3 separate regions of the Homo sapiens genome follow, and all the other regions are reported to be linked to region 1. Evidence: microRNA targets listed by miRTarBase, many of them from high-throughput screens and not tested one by one. Region 1 holds a microRNA gene; each other region holds the end of a gene's coding sequence.

What was found. Region 1 holds the annotated microRNA hsa-miR-1267 (CCUGUUGAAGUGUAAUCCCCA, at 2,260-2,280, opposite strand). A microRNA usually pairs through its seed, bases 2 to 8, with sites in the 3' UTR of a target mRNA and lowers its output. Matches are read on the target gene's strand: a 7mer-m8 pairs with bases 2 to 8, a 7mer-A1 pairs with bases 2 to 7 and ends in A, and an 8mer does both.
Region 2: miRTarBase lists DZIP1L as a target of hsa-miR-1267. Seed matches in the 3' UTR shown: 8mer at 307-314.
Region 3: the mRNA of PIWIL1 is a reported target of hsa-miR-1267. Seed matches in the 3' UTR shown: 7mer-A1 at 1,259-1,265.

The regions. Positions count from the first base shown.
Region 1 is chr13:107,528,958-107,533,202 of GRCh38, forward strand. It overlaps MIR1267 (microRNA 1267), which reads right to left and starts at 2,291; the gene lies at 2,214-2,291. The region is part of intron 1 of NALF1 (NALCN channel auxiliary factor 1); the gene reads right to left. It overlaps LOC112268110 (a long non-coding RNA gene), which reads right to left. Exons shown (of 3, transcript XR_002957493.2): 1 at 1-4,245.
Region 2 is chr3:138,058,817-138,063,061 of GRCh38, reverse strand. DZIP1L (DAZ interacting zinc finger protein 1 like) reads left to right here. Exons shown (of 16, transcript NM_173543.3): 16 at 85-1,072. The coding sequence ends at 246. Among named protein-coding and RNA genes, the nearest start is that of CLDN18, 51 kb to the right of the region's middle.
Region 3 is chr12:130,371,318-130,375,562 of GRCh38, forward strand. It overlaps PIWIL1 (piwi like RNA-mediated gene silencing 1), which reads left to right. Exons shown (of 21, transcript NM_004764.5): 20 at 1-6; 21 at 165-1,320. The coding sequence ends at 281. Among named protein-coding and RNA genes, the nearest start is that of PIWIL1, 36 kb to the left of the region's middle.

The DNA.
Region 1 (4,245 bases):
TCTGCCCATGAAACGTGTTCCTCTTCCTGGCTAACCCTGCTTATTTTCCAATAAAAGTATGAATTTTGGACCTTTTCTACAGTGTTACTCAGTCTCACCTCTGTTTTCCCACGGCACCCTGACCAGAGCTTTATCCATTCATTTATGTTCTATTTCATTTGCTTAACAAGATCTTCCCACCAGAGAGAGAGAAGCCTAATGCTGGAGACTTTGTCTTAACCATGTTAGTTCTCTCAGTGCTTAGCATATGGCTGGCTGACTCTCAGCAAGTGAAGGAATGGGTGAATACCTGCATAGTGAATAATTATTCAAGAGCAGAGAAACGAGACCATAGCTCTGGTATTAACAAGTTGTATGACTTTCAGAATCACTTCACCGATCCAGGCCTTCAGATAAAAAAGATGAGTAGCAATTGGGTAGGCAGTCAGGAAAGAGAATGCCCCAGATGGCAGAAAGGGAATTTGAAAACGGAGATTTAAGCAAGCAAAGTACATTAATGAAACAGCAAATTATTTGGTAATCTTAGATGTTCCTCAAACTTTCTGCTTTTGACTTTTCATACAACCCTCAATATTCACACTATATGTCCTAGATGTGTGCAATTCAGTGGTCTAATCTGGACTTCCAGATAAAAGGCCAGCAAGGCTGACTTCCAGCTCTTCCAAGATGGCCCCGCAGGACAGTAGCCAACCATTCACCAGCTTGGCTCCCATTGCAATGTGTGTGTGATGATTGGAAGATGTGATGAATTAATTACATCTTTTTCCTTTTTTTAGATCTTCCGTAAGCTCTGACTGCCATGTGAGAGAGGAACGGGCATCACCTGAAGGAAAGGATGATGTCTCAGGACTTTCTAAGAGCAACAGAATGTTGGAAACTATCCATGGTAGGGATGCAGTTGGCTAGTTACAATGCTTGACATCCCTTCATCTAGTGGCCATGGGACTCCAAGGTATCTTTCCATAAAGAACCAAAGCCAAACTCACAATCTGCCTAAACTGCTATTCTCAGCTTTCAAGAGGAAGATGACTGTTAATACCCAAGAGTAAGAATAAGAAGCAAGGGTTCTATAGCTAACTCATGCCTTCTTTCCACAGCTCACTCTTATTCAGCAATATGGGCTCCCTTAGCTCCAACCCTCAAATCCCCACCTGGGCACCTTTACCTTGTTCTCTCTCCACCCTGGGACACTCTCTCCTGCCTATTAATGAGGCAGGCTCAGTCTTATGCTTTATAGCTCAGTCATCTACTTAAGGAGGCCTAAAAGCTCTGTCCAAAGACAAAACCTCCATCCTAGCAAGATAGTCTGCCTTTGTTTACTTCATAGCATATATCCCAATCCATAATTATTTTTATATTTGTTTCCTATTTACTACCTATATCCACCACTAGCATGGATACTTTTAAGCTACTTGATCATCTACTATATCCCCAGAGCCATGAAAACATCATACATAGTAAGTGCTCAGCAAATTACTTGCTGAATGAATGAAGTATATCCATATAGACTGAAGCAAAATCTAAGACATTCCTCTAAATTTAATATTTGTAAGATTTTTTTTAAATGACAAGATTTTTATGTATGACCTGTGATCATTTTAGTATATTCATAACATGTGGATGTATGCAGAAGATGGACTCATTCCACACAAAAATGCCATTGTACAAATACTATCTGTTGAGGCAGCCCAGCAGGTACTACATGACAAATAGGAGGCAAAAATAATATTGCAAATCACCACAGCTATAGAGAAAACATAGTATCACTTACATCATATTGATGTAAGCTGAAATCTGTCCAGAGCTGAGGCTAATCATTTGTGAAAAGCAGCTGACAATATAGAAAGAACAAGCATCTAAGTTATATATGAACTATTTTCACCATTCTCCTTATAAAGTTTTAAAAATAATATGAAAACCAGCAGGATTGCCTGAAATGTGAAAAGAACACTGACGATTTTTATTGTGATTTTTAGTGGAAACATTTTAGTTATGTAAAAACTGTTAAAGGGATAGTCTTTGTACCCTAAAAAAGAACTCTGCTGAACATTGTCATTCACATATATATATATATATACATCTGAGATATTTTATTAGGATGCATTCCTATATTAGGAATTACAGAACTAAAGAGGATGGACTTTTAACATATATTTTAACATAGCTCTCCAGAAATAAAAAGTTCTTGACCACTGATGGAGTCCGGATATTTGTCCTCATCCAAATCTCATGTTGAAATGTAATCCCCAATGCTGGAGGTGGGGATTACACTTCAACAGGAGATTTGGGAGGTATTTGGATCACGGAGGCAGATCCCTCATGAATAGCTTGGGCCATCCTCTTGGTGATGAGTGAGCTCTTCTTCTGAGTGTATGGCACCTTACCCCCAACTCTCTCTCTTTTGTTCTGGCTCTGGTCACGTGACAAAGACTGTTCCTTCTTCACCTTTCACCATGATTGTAAGCTCCTGAGGACTCCCCAGAAGCCGAGCAGATGCCAGAACCATGGGTCCTATAAAGCCTGAAGAATCATGAGCCAATTAAACCTCTTTGTTTTATAAATTATGCAATCACAGGTATTCCTTTATAGCAATGCAAGAATGGTCTAATATAATCAGTGACACTAATCATCAATATTATCTTATTAATTTTCCCAGTTTATTCAACATCAAAACCAGTACATTTTAGTTAAACTCACATTAAATGTTTGTATTTTTTTCATTTTATGAGTTGTCTGTCTGTATTTTTTTCCACTTTTATCTCAGTATGCTCATCTTCTTTTGTTGTTGTTTGACTGGAATACGTGTTGCAAGTAATTTTTCCAGCTTCTCATTTGCATCTTTTTTATGATGGTGTTAGATATGCCAAAGTTTTGTGTCATGTGAAGTATTATCTACTGATACTCCCCTTAGAATTTTTAAAAATTAATTTTATGCTTATAAACTTCTCTGCCATTTTGCAATCTTCTATTTACGTATTTGTTTTCTAGATGACTAACATGGCTTTTTCACAATCAAGTTCATAACGCAGCTGAATTTGCATACTTACCTAACTTGAAAATTTTCTCTCAAATAGTGAGTTATCCTAGAAGCATTTAATAGAAAATGCTTTGTTTCTTAACTGACTTACAAGCTACCCTTTTGTATACTAAATCCTTTGATGTGCTAGGTTCTCCTCCAAGTTTCTTGCAGACAACCAAGAACAAAATGAAAGAGAAAGAAAGTGAACAAAAGTAGAGTTTAAAAAGCTACAGCCTTTCAAGGTCAACATTTTAAAGTAAAACAGCATCTTTTTCTTTGAAATCTTATGGATTCCCACAGTGTAAAACATGCTTCTATCTAATAATCAGTATTAAAGAATCTATTAAGAAATTTCAATGATTTTTGTTTCCCTTGGCTGAGCTCTCATTATGGACTGTTTTGCTGCTTCCTTTCTCTATGAAGAAAAATCATTCATTGCTAGTGTTTTCTCAGTGTTACAATGCTTTTCCAATAAGCGTTCATTCTAGTGGTGTGTGCTTCCTCATCAACAAACATGAAATTTATCTTCTTAAATATCAAGAGTTCAGGTTATTACAAAACCTAAGGCTTACAGTGTGGTATAGTCCAAAATCATACTCCATAAACTACTGGAAAATTAATCAAATTATATTACATGAAGTTTTTATATACTCATATCTTTTGACTTGAGGTATTTCAAATATTTGAGAATCTCTTATAGACCTCATTTCAACTTTAATTTTTCTGTCTCATGTGTTTGGTCCATTTATGTGATTTGCCTGGGACATTAATGAAATTCTCAAGAATGTTAATTTTCAGAAAATATAAATCCCTGAAAAGTTAGCAATTTAGAGATTATTCAGGAATATAATTTTGTGCTAGTTTCTAACGTAATATTGCAATTATATTAACTGAAGACAAAATATTGCCACCTAGACTTCAAAAAACATCTTAAAGGTAGTTGCAGAACTGTTAAGAAAACAACCTAAAAACAGTAGCCATTAACATATTAAAAATGATATAAAAATTAAGAATACATGCTAAGCTGGAAATTTAAAACATCATTTAGAAACCAGACACTTTGACTGGAGGCAGCTGTTGCCTCTCTTTTTGACTTAAACTTTTATTTAACTCATTCTACTAAAATTAATATCCCCACGAAAAGAGAGTTATAACCATAACTTTTAATGAGGCTCAGTTTTGCCCCTTTCTTTTTTCTCTGTTTTACATATTTTGTTTGTAAAGTG
Region 2 (4,245 bases), not on the chromosome of region 1:
ATTCCCATCCTGCAATGTGCTTAGCTCTCAGCCACCCTCCTCCCTTATCAAAATGCATTTTCTTCTCCCCTTTACCCCCTGCAGCTTTCTGAAGATGAGAGTGACTTGGAGATCTCCTCCTTGGAAGATCTTCCTCTGGACCTGGACCAGAGAGAGAAACCCAAGCCCTTGTCTCGCTCAAAGCTCCCAGAGAAGTTTGGCACTGGTCCACAGAGCTCTGGCCAACCCAGGGTCCCTGCCTGGTGATTCACCCCAGAAGCTAGCTGGCTAGAGGGTTAGCCTGGCTGGGGCCAGCTCAGGTCCACTTCAACAGAAGAGGCTGCTGGGCCTCTTGTCTTCACAAACAACCAAGAGATCATCCTCTTGGAGAGAAGCAGTGCAGGGAATGGATATGATCTCATCCCTCCTGACCTGTGAGGGGCCCTGCTGTAGATGGCCACAGGTGCCTGACTAGGAGCCCCTAGGTCCCCAGGCTTGAGAAAGGGTTAAAATAGAACCTCCAGGTAGTTTTCTTCCTCTACCTCCACATCCCCCCAAGACTGAAAAGAGTCACTAACTCTCTTTTCCCAAGCCTTTTATAAAACTGCAGGAACACTGTGGAGATGGTTCCTATCTGGGGTCCTTTTGGGGACATATGCCTCAGTCAGTCATTCAGTGATTGATCCAAAATTATTTACTGAGTGCCTACCTACTCTGCGCCAGGCTCTCTAGCCTCTCACTACTGAGTTAGGGTGCAGGCAGAGGCTGGGGCAGAATGTTTACAGCCAGTGCCAGCACAAGGTAGTAATCTAGTGACAGAGAACAGGGTGTTATGGGGAGCATATGAGAGGCCATCTATCCCAGCCTGGGTGATCCTGGAGAGTTTCCCAGGGTTGTGATATGTGGCAGGCCTACTCATGGGTGGGAAGGGAGGATGGCCACTTGGCTGGACCTTGTATCCCCAAAGGACCACACGTGTAATTTTTGATATTATTTCCAAAATCAGGTTTTATACATAGCCATTGTATATTTTTAGTGTGAAAAACATTAATATATTATATGCAAACATTTAAATATAGTACAATGTTTTTAACTCTGGTATGTATTTCATTATTTTTGGAGCTTTCAGGGGGTTGGGAGGGAAGGAAGCAACTGCATCTTAATTGTGTCAGTTTAGGTCTTTTGGGACATGGTTGCCAAGATGGAGTTATTGAGGAGCTGCACTTGGGAAAGAAAAGGAGGTGGAGGTAGGATCCAGTGGGGAAAGGCCGCAGACTGCAATGCACACCTGACCACTGTGAACAGAAAGAGAGAAGGAAGCTGGAGGAGCCAGGAGAACTCAGGGCATTGATGTGTTGACAAGGTCTCCACTGACCCAGTGGGGAGCTCCTGAGCAAGAACTGCCCACTTGGGAGTCCCCATTGTGCAGAAATGGCCAGGCTCTCATGCCTGCACTGCACTTGGCCATTGGCTGGGGTGGCCCAGACTGAATGAGACCTTGACTTGAAAGCTGGAGTGAACCTTGGAGTGAACCTGTCAGTCAATTTCATTTCTCCTGGTTGAGTGGCATTTTTTTTTTTTTTTCCTGAAAGGGAGACCTAGCAAAGAACCTCCATCCCTGACACAGCAAAGATCTATTTTTAACTTTTTGTTATGGAAAGTTTCAAACACATATATGAGTAAAGGGAATAGTGTGATGAACCCATGTGCTCATCACTGGGCTTCAAATATTATCAGCTCAACTCAAGGTCAATCTTGTTTCATCTATTACCACCTCCAACTCACCCAGACTTCCTTTGACCTTTGGGTGGTCCTGACACCTGGAGAGGCCTTGAAGTTCTCGTAGGAAGGTGATGGAGGAAACACACTGCAGGGAGCAAAAGGGGTCTGGTGGTGGAGTAGGGTAGCTGGGGGAGGGGGCAGGCTGGGGGTGTTGTCGTACAAAGGAAGCTGCTCAATGAGGAAGCTCAGGAGAGCTGGAGAGCTGATGCTACCAGATCAGCCCACAATCTTGATGGGATGGGAGTTGATGAGTAATTGCTCCAGGCTTCCTGTGCTTCTGTGGGGCACCTCTGAGTTTTATTCTGCACAGTTTCTCAGAGTCCCTTGTGGGATTGAGTGCTAGTTCTCACTAGTATGCAGTTACTATTATTAATGCATAGTTCATCGGCCTTCCTCTTTTCTGTTTCATTTTTCTCACTCCCTTACTTCTTTCTCTTATGAGCACCTCTGAGGTAAATTAATCTGCACCCAAGTCCTTGTTTCTAGCTCCACTTTTGGGGGAATGCAAATGTAAACAGTAAATGTGTTTGGACTTGTGTGCACACACTGGTGATGATTATCAATGAGAATGTCTCTGTTCTTGAATGTTCATCATTACGTTATATGTTTCCAAATGGGTTTTTCTATCTACTTTGGAGGGTTTGACTAACGTATTACTTTGGTGTTTCTATGCTGTGTTCACCCCTTCCCATTTTCAAATATATTTTAAAATTCTTTAGTAAGTTGTATTAGGTCTCAATAGAAACAGAACTAGTAGGATATATGGATAGATAGATACTTATGGGTATTTATTAGCCAGTTTCCCTAATAAATGACAGGGGATTTATTAAGGGAATTAGCTGATGTGATCACGGCATAGGCTGTCTGCAAACTGGAGAATGAAGGAAGCTGGTAGAGTGGCTCAGTCTAAATCCGAAAGCCGGAGAACCTGGGACTGTTGGTGCAGGTCCTGGGGCCTGAGAACCTGGAGTTCTGACATCCAAGGACAGAAGCTGGGTGTCCCAACTCCAGAGAGAAAGCCTTTCTATATAGGCTGGCAGCAGATTGGATGGTGTCCCCCACAATGGGAGAGGGCAGATTTTCCTCACTCAGTTTACTGATTCAAATGCTAATCTCTTCTGGAAGCACCTTCTCAGACCTACTCAGAAGTAATGCTTCACAGCTGTCCAGGTATCTCTTGCTCTCATTAAATTGAACTAAAATTAACCAGCACAAGATTTGCCAGAACTGTGGAACGTATGTAACAGATCATTTAAAAATTAGACAAATGATAAGGTTGATACAGAAAAATTAGAAAATACAGATAATCAAAAAGAATATAACCCACAAATTCAGTCAATTATTGTTAACATCTAGATGTACATGCACTGGTGAAAAAAAAAACTCCTTCCTAGGGTTCAACTATATTCTTCTCTAGCTTGATTTTCTCCTGGAAAACAGATTACAAATGTCTTTATATCAGTACACATGTACATGTCAGTACGTATAAATATAAGACAGTTATATATAATGGCCACCTCGTATTCCAGGCAAAGATTACAAAAGTTTTTTTAACCAGACATTTCTACTTTTTGCATTTTATAAATCATGAAGTGATTAAAAAAATGTGTATATGTGTCTTTGTGCACTTGATTAAGATTTCCTTAAAATAAATTCTTAGAAGTGAGGTTGCTGGGCCAACATAATAATGAAAGCCAGCACCATATGCCAGGCACTGGTCCAAGTTTGGTACCAATATTATGATTTAGCCTCACAGCAGCCCTTGAGATGGATGCCACTATTATAGTACATGCATTTCATGGGCTAGGAATTGAGGTACACAGCAGCTAAGAAACTTGTTTTGGGTCCTGCCACCAGTGAGTGGTGTGACTGCAATCTGACTTTGGCAGCCTGGCCCTGGCACTCTAGCTCCTTTCCCCATGTACTTTTGTTACATATTGCCAAATGCTTTCCAGAAAACTGGAGCCAATTTAGTCTACTAGTGTTTGGAGCACACAAGAAAGCTAGTTTTTGCATTCCCTTGCTACCAGGGATATCATTAATCTTTCAATGTTTTGGCCACGTGATACGTGAAAAATGAAACCTCACCTTTTAAGAAACTTGCATTTTTAAGATTTCTTCTAAAGTAAAATTATTTTTTATTTCTTTTTCATGTTGGTTGTTGCTATTTCTTCTTTTATGAGTTGCCCGTAGTTCACTTTTCTTGTTGCTGTTTTCTTTATCTCTTTATTATGAAAAATTTCAAGCATATATAAAAATAGAATTGTGTAATGACCTTGGTGTTCCTATTACTCAGTTTTAACAATTACCAACCCATAGAGAATCTTGTTTCCTGTATATCTTTCGCCAAATAATATTGTATGTTTTAATATGATACTGCATATTATTCCAAGTAATATACATGTAATATTACATATTATCCCAAATAATATCATTATGTCTACAAACATTTCTGTATGTGTCTCTAAAAGATACTTCCTTTTC
Region 3 (4,245 bases), not on the chromosome of region 1:
TGGCCAGTAAGTGCTTCTACTTGTTGATGTTTAGCAAATAAAGGACATTCACTTTTCAAAATGAAATAGCTGTGGTTTAAAAGGCTTTTAGGGTTAATACTGAGATTTGCAATTGAAAGAGGCTAAGTCTAGAGTAATAGAACCTTTTTTTCCTTCCACTAAAGGGTGTCATTCGTGTTCCTGCTCCTTGCCAGTACGCCCACAAGCTGGCTTTTCTTGTTGGCCAGAGTATTCACAGAGAGCCAAATCTGTCACTGTCAAACCGCCTTTACTACCTCTAACCTGCAGAAGACGATGCAGCCGCTTTTCTTTTTGAAATGACTTTGGGATTTTTTTAAGCTTTTATTTACTTTTTTTTTAACTGTTATCTTTCTGGATGAAACTTGGGAAGGGGATTAGGAGATCTAGCATTTTATTTCTAGCATTGCTATTCACCGGCTTCCTTATTTTATACGTAAAAATTAAGATTTTATATTTTATCTTCTTGTTTCTCATAGATATTTTGTGAGCATTTTTTTGTTTATTTTGAAGAAATGTGGATAAGATACTTGGTAGTATAAAACAGACTCTCTGAGAGTATTTGAAATGTGTTTGGAGATTTACTTAAACGTACTTTCAGGAGTGAGCAAGTCCTACTTATAAACCTATATTAACTTTATTTTTGAGATACCTGTTTTGAATTTAAAGGAGATAAGAGGCGTAAAGTAGGATGCTCACTACAACCATAGGTGGGGTTTCAGCTCATATCTTAAAGATAAAAGGTACTATTATATAACCTATACACAAGATACAGGAGAAAATATGCTTGATTTTTATTTGGCAGGGGGGCTAGGTTGTATGGGAGTAAAAAAAACATTGAAAATTTTTAAATTGTCCAAAGAAACATTTTAAGACTCTTTAACAAAAAAGGCCATGAGTAAATCTCTATATTAACATTACTATTTATTTTGTTTTGGAACTGGGACATGATTCTATTTGTTATAAAATAAAATTGATGTGATTGTCACCTTATTTGAATAACTGTAATTCTTGTTTTACTGAAAGTATGTGCGTTTTCTTTTCATTTAATTTTTAAAAGTGCATACAATTCCATTCATAAAAGCTAAATTAGCCTGACCAACATGGTGAAACCCCATCTCTACTAAAAATACAAAATTAGCCAGATGTGGTGCCAGGAGGCTGAGGCAGGAGAATCACTTGAACCTGAGAGGCGGAGGTTGCAGTGAGCAGAGATCACGCCACTGCACTCCAGCCTGGGCAACAGAGTGAGACTCCGTCTCAAAAAAAAAAAAAAAAAAAAAAAAAAAAAAAAAAAAAAAAAAGCTCAATTAGTGTCTCTTACGAACTCTAATGTCAGAGTAAAATTTTTTAAGGAAATGCTGCCACCTCCAATATTTGTAGTATAAGAACGGGTATCCACAGCTTATAAGGAAGCACAGACTAAGAAGTCTGTGGTGTTGTGAAGTTGGTAATTGTAGTTTTTTATATCTACATATTTATAGGAATTCTCAGGAACGTTTGCAAAGAGAAGGCTTAAAATTAATGAATTATTGTAAATCCCGGGAACACCTTTAAACATTGCTTACAAATGTGATGAGTGTAAGCTTTAATGACAATACACAAGTCCCTGGAACTGTAATTTAAACTAACGCAGATCACTCAAGTCATTTGTCTTACCTTTGTGGCACACGGTCTCATTCTGAATTTAGCCTCATTAACATATTATGAATGAAAACCATTTTATTTTCCTTTTAGTTCTTAGAGCTAATAATTGTTGTTAACATTGTTCTGGGCAAGCAGCCCAGGTTCCTTAACCTGTTCGATTTCTAAGCATGAGAAGACAAGAAACACAGAACAGTGTGACCTTCAAAAGGAGGCCAGAGACAAACATTTCAATGGTAGAAGTTGCTTAAGGTTGTCCTAGCATTAAGGAATATAAGGAAGTCTAATCATACGACTGGAAAATATTAATTTATTTATGGATTTTGGTGGCTAGTCAGTTAGTTAAGTCATGAAAAGCTCATTCTTAGCAGGTCTCAGCTCTGCCTCAAAGTGAAAGTTGAATTTAATGTCTTTAGAACCGTGAAAAATTGGTAAATGTGATAATTGTGGAAAAGTTGCAGGTGTCCAGAGACCCCACTATATCAAGAAAGACTTAGTTGAAAGGGACAGAAAACTGGCTGAAGTTATTTTAAGCCAAAAAAGGGTATTGCTTGGTTTTGTCATCATCCTAGGTAACACTTCCCAAATTTACTAATCTGTTAGACATCACCTGGTTGGGTTTGTGATAACACAGACTGGGTTCCAAACTGTACCTAGGAATCGGGACTCTCAGGGGAGAGGCCAGGTGAACAGTCTATTAAACAAGTCCCAGGTGATTTGCCAGGGACTTTTGGCAAATGCTAGTTGAAAGGGGTCTCCTTAACATCGTCTTGGTTATGCCTCTGCTGTGGTTTTCATCAGACAAACCTGTTGCATGCGGCGACAGAGACTAGGTTGATGTCTGAGCCACACCGAGTACACGGAGCACTGTCAGAGAATTCACTGCCGCACTCACAAAGAACAAAGCAAAGACTCCGTGAAATCCCAATTTCTCCTTTCACGTGGGATGTGCGTATCTGAGTGGGATGTCCAAAAGCTTTAGTGTTAAACACACTGACCTCAGGCTGTCCCTTCCCAAAGCTTCGTCTGACCAGTCTACCTGGTGGTTCCTGAAGGAACCCCAGGGATTTGGTGGGTGGTTCCCCAAAAGTGCATGCCTGTAGGAAGTCTGTCCACTCTTTTCTGGGTACATTTTCCTTCAAAATTCAAAAATGTGACACTCATTGAAGCATTCTATTTAGCAATTTTACACGCATTCCCTAAGTCCTACAGGAGTTTTTTGGAGTAATCTCCTGAACCTGCTGCTTACACACAGTGACGGCTCTGGCTCTCTCCTCAGAGTCAAATAGAAAGTATTTTCAACAGCAGTTTCATTCTGATACTATGATACGAGTCTTCAGATATTTCGTACATTTCTAAGTAAAAGCTTAAAGTTTGTGTAATTGGTATTGTCATTCAGATACAAGATTTCAAAAGCTAGGTTTAATTTTCTTTACCTTCATTATTACTACCCAATGATTTTAAAAATCCATTGTGTACAATAGAGAAACTGTAAAATTTTCAAGAGTAGTCAGGAGGGAGTCCCTGCACTTGGAGTAAGATGACTCTTCTCTCTAGGCCACCATTCAAAGGAGGCTCCATGGCCTCTACACTCTGAGTTAAGCTGCCCTTCAAGCACCCTGTGCTGCCAGAACTCAAGTGGGCACCTAGAACTCTGCACTGCGGAGTCCAGCGCTCTGCCCTCGTCCATCGCAGCCTTCCCACTCTCATGCCTGGGAACCCCACGACCAGTGGCATGCCCCATCCCTGGGCTCTTCCCACAAGCCCAAAGCTCCAGGTGATCCCTCGTATTTCAGGCTCATCTCTGAGGAGCTCTTTGCAGTCTCTTTTTTGACACCATCCCCTGCTCCTCAACTTTTCCTGTGTCCTCTGGAGCTCATTCTCAACAGCCTCTTAGGGGCGGTTTCTTTACATCTCCCTTTAACAAACTCGGCTTTCTCCCGGGTCACTCACAGTGCTGCTGTTGTCTCTCCTACACTTCTCGTCTGCCAAGGTCTGGAGGGTGAGGTAGGTGTCCCTCTTGCTCCTCACTGATATTTCCAGACACCCCGACCCCCGCAAAAAAGAAACCACTCGGCTTTGAATCTACTTTGATCAGATCATGTCAGCCGCTCCCCCTCCCTTTGCCACTTTATGCTCCCCGAGCTCCGATTCCTCCTTGCAGATGGTAGCTCCTGGCTTGCTCACATTGTCCTGTGGTGCTTTCCTTCTAATTCTTGGCTAAAACACACCGGTGAAGTCCAGCTTTTTGCCTACTTGCCTGTTCCTTTGCAAATAAACACGGCTGGAGAAAAGCACGCAACCCTGTGTAATTGTTGTATTTCAATTCATGATCACAAGCAGGTATTTAATGCTGTCAATACATGTATGTCTAGCCATTGGCTCCACAGCTCTCTGATGTTTTTCATACCTTGTCTCCTTACACCACCACCACCACCACCTCCATCCGCATTCTCAACTACTGTCTATTTTGCTAAAAATCCAGGCAGAGCTTCACAAGCTCCCACCTGAACCGCGTTTGCTCTGCAGCCCGGTGTTGTGGCGGCACGCACGGTCTGTGCACTCGGCCAGAGCACACCCCAC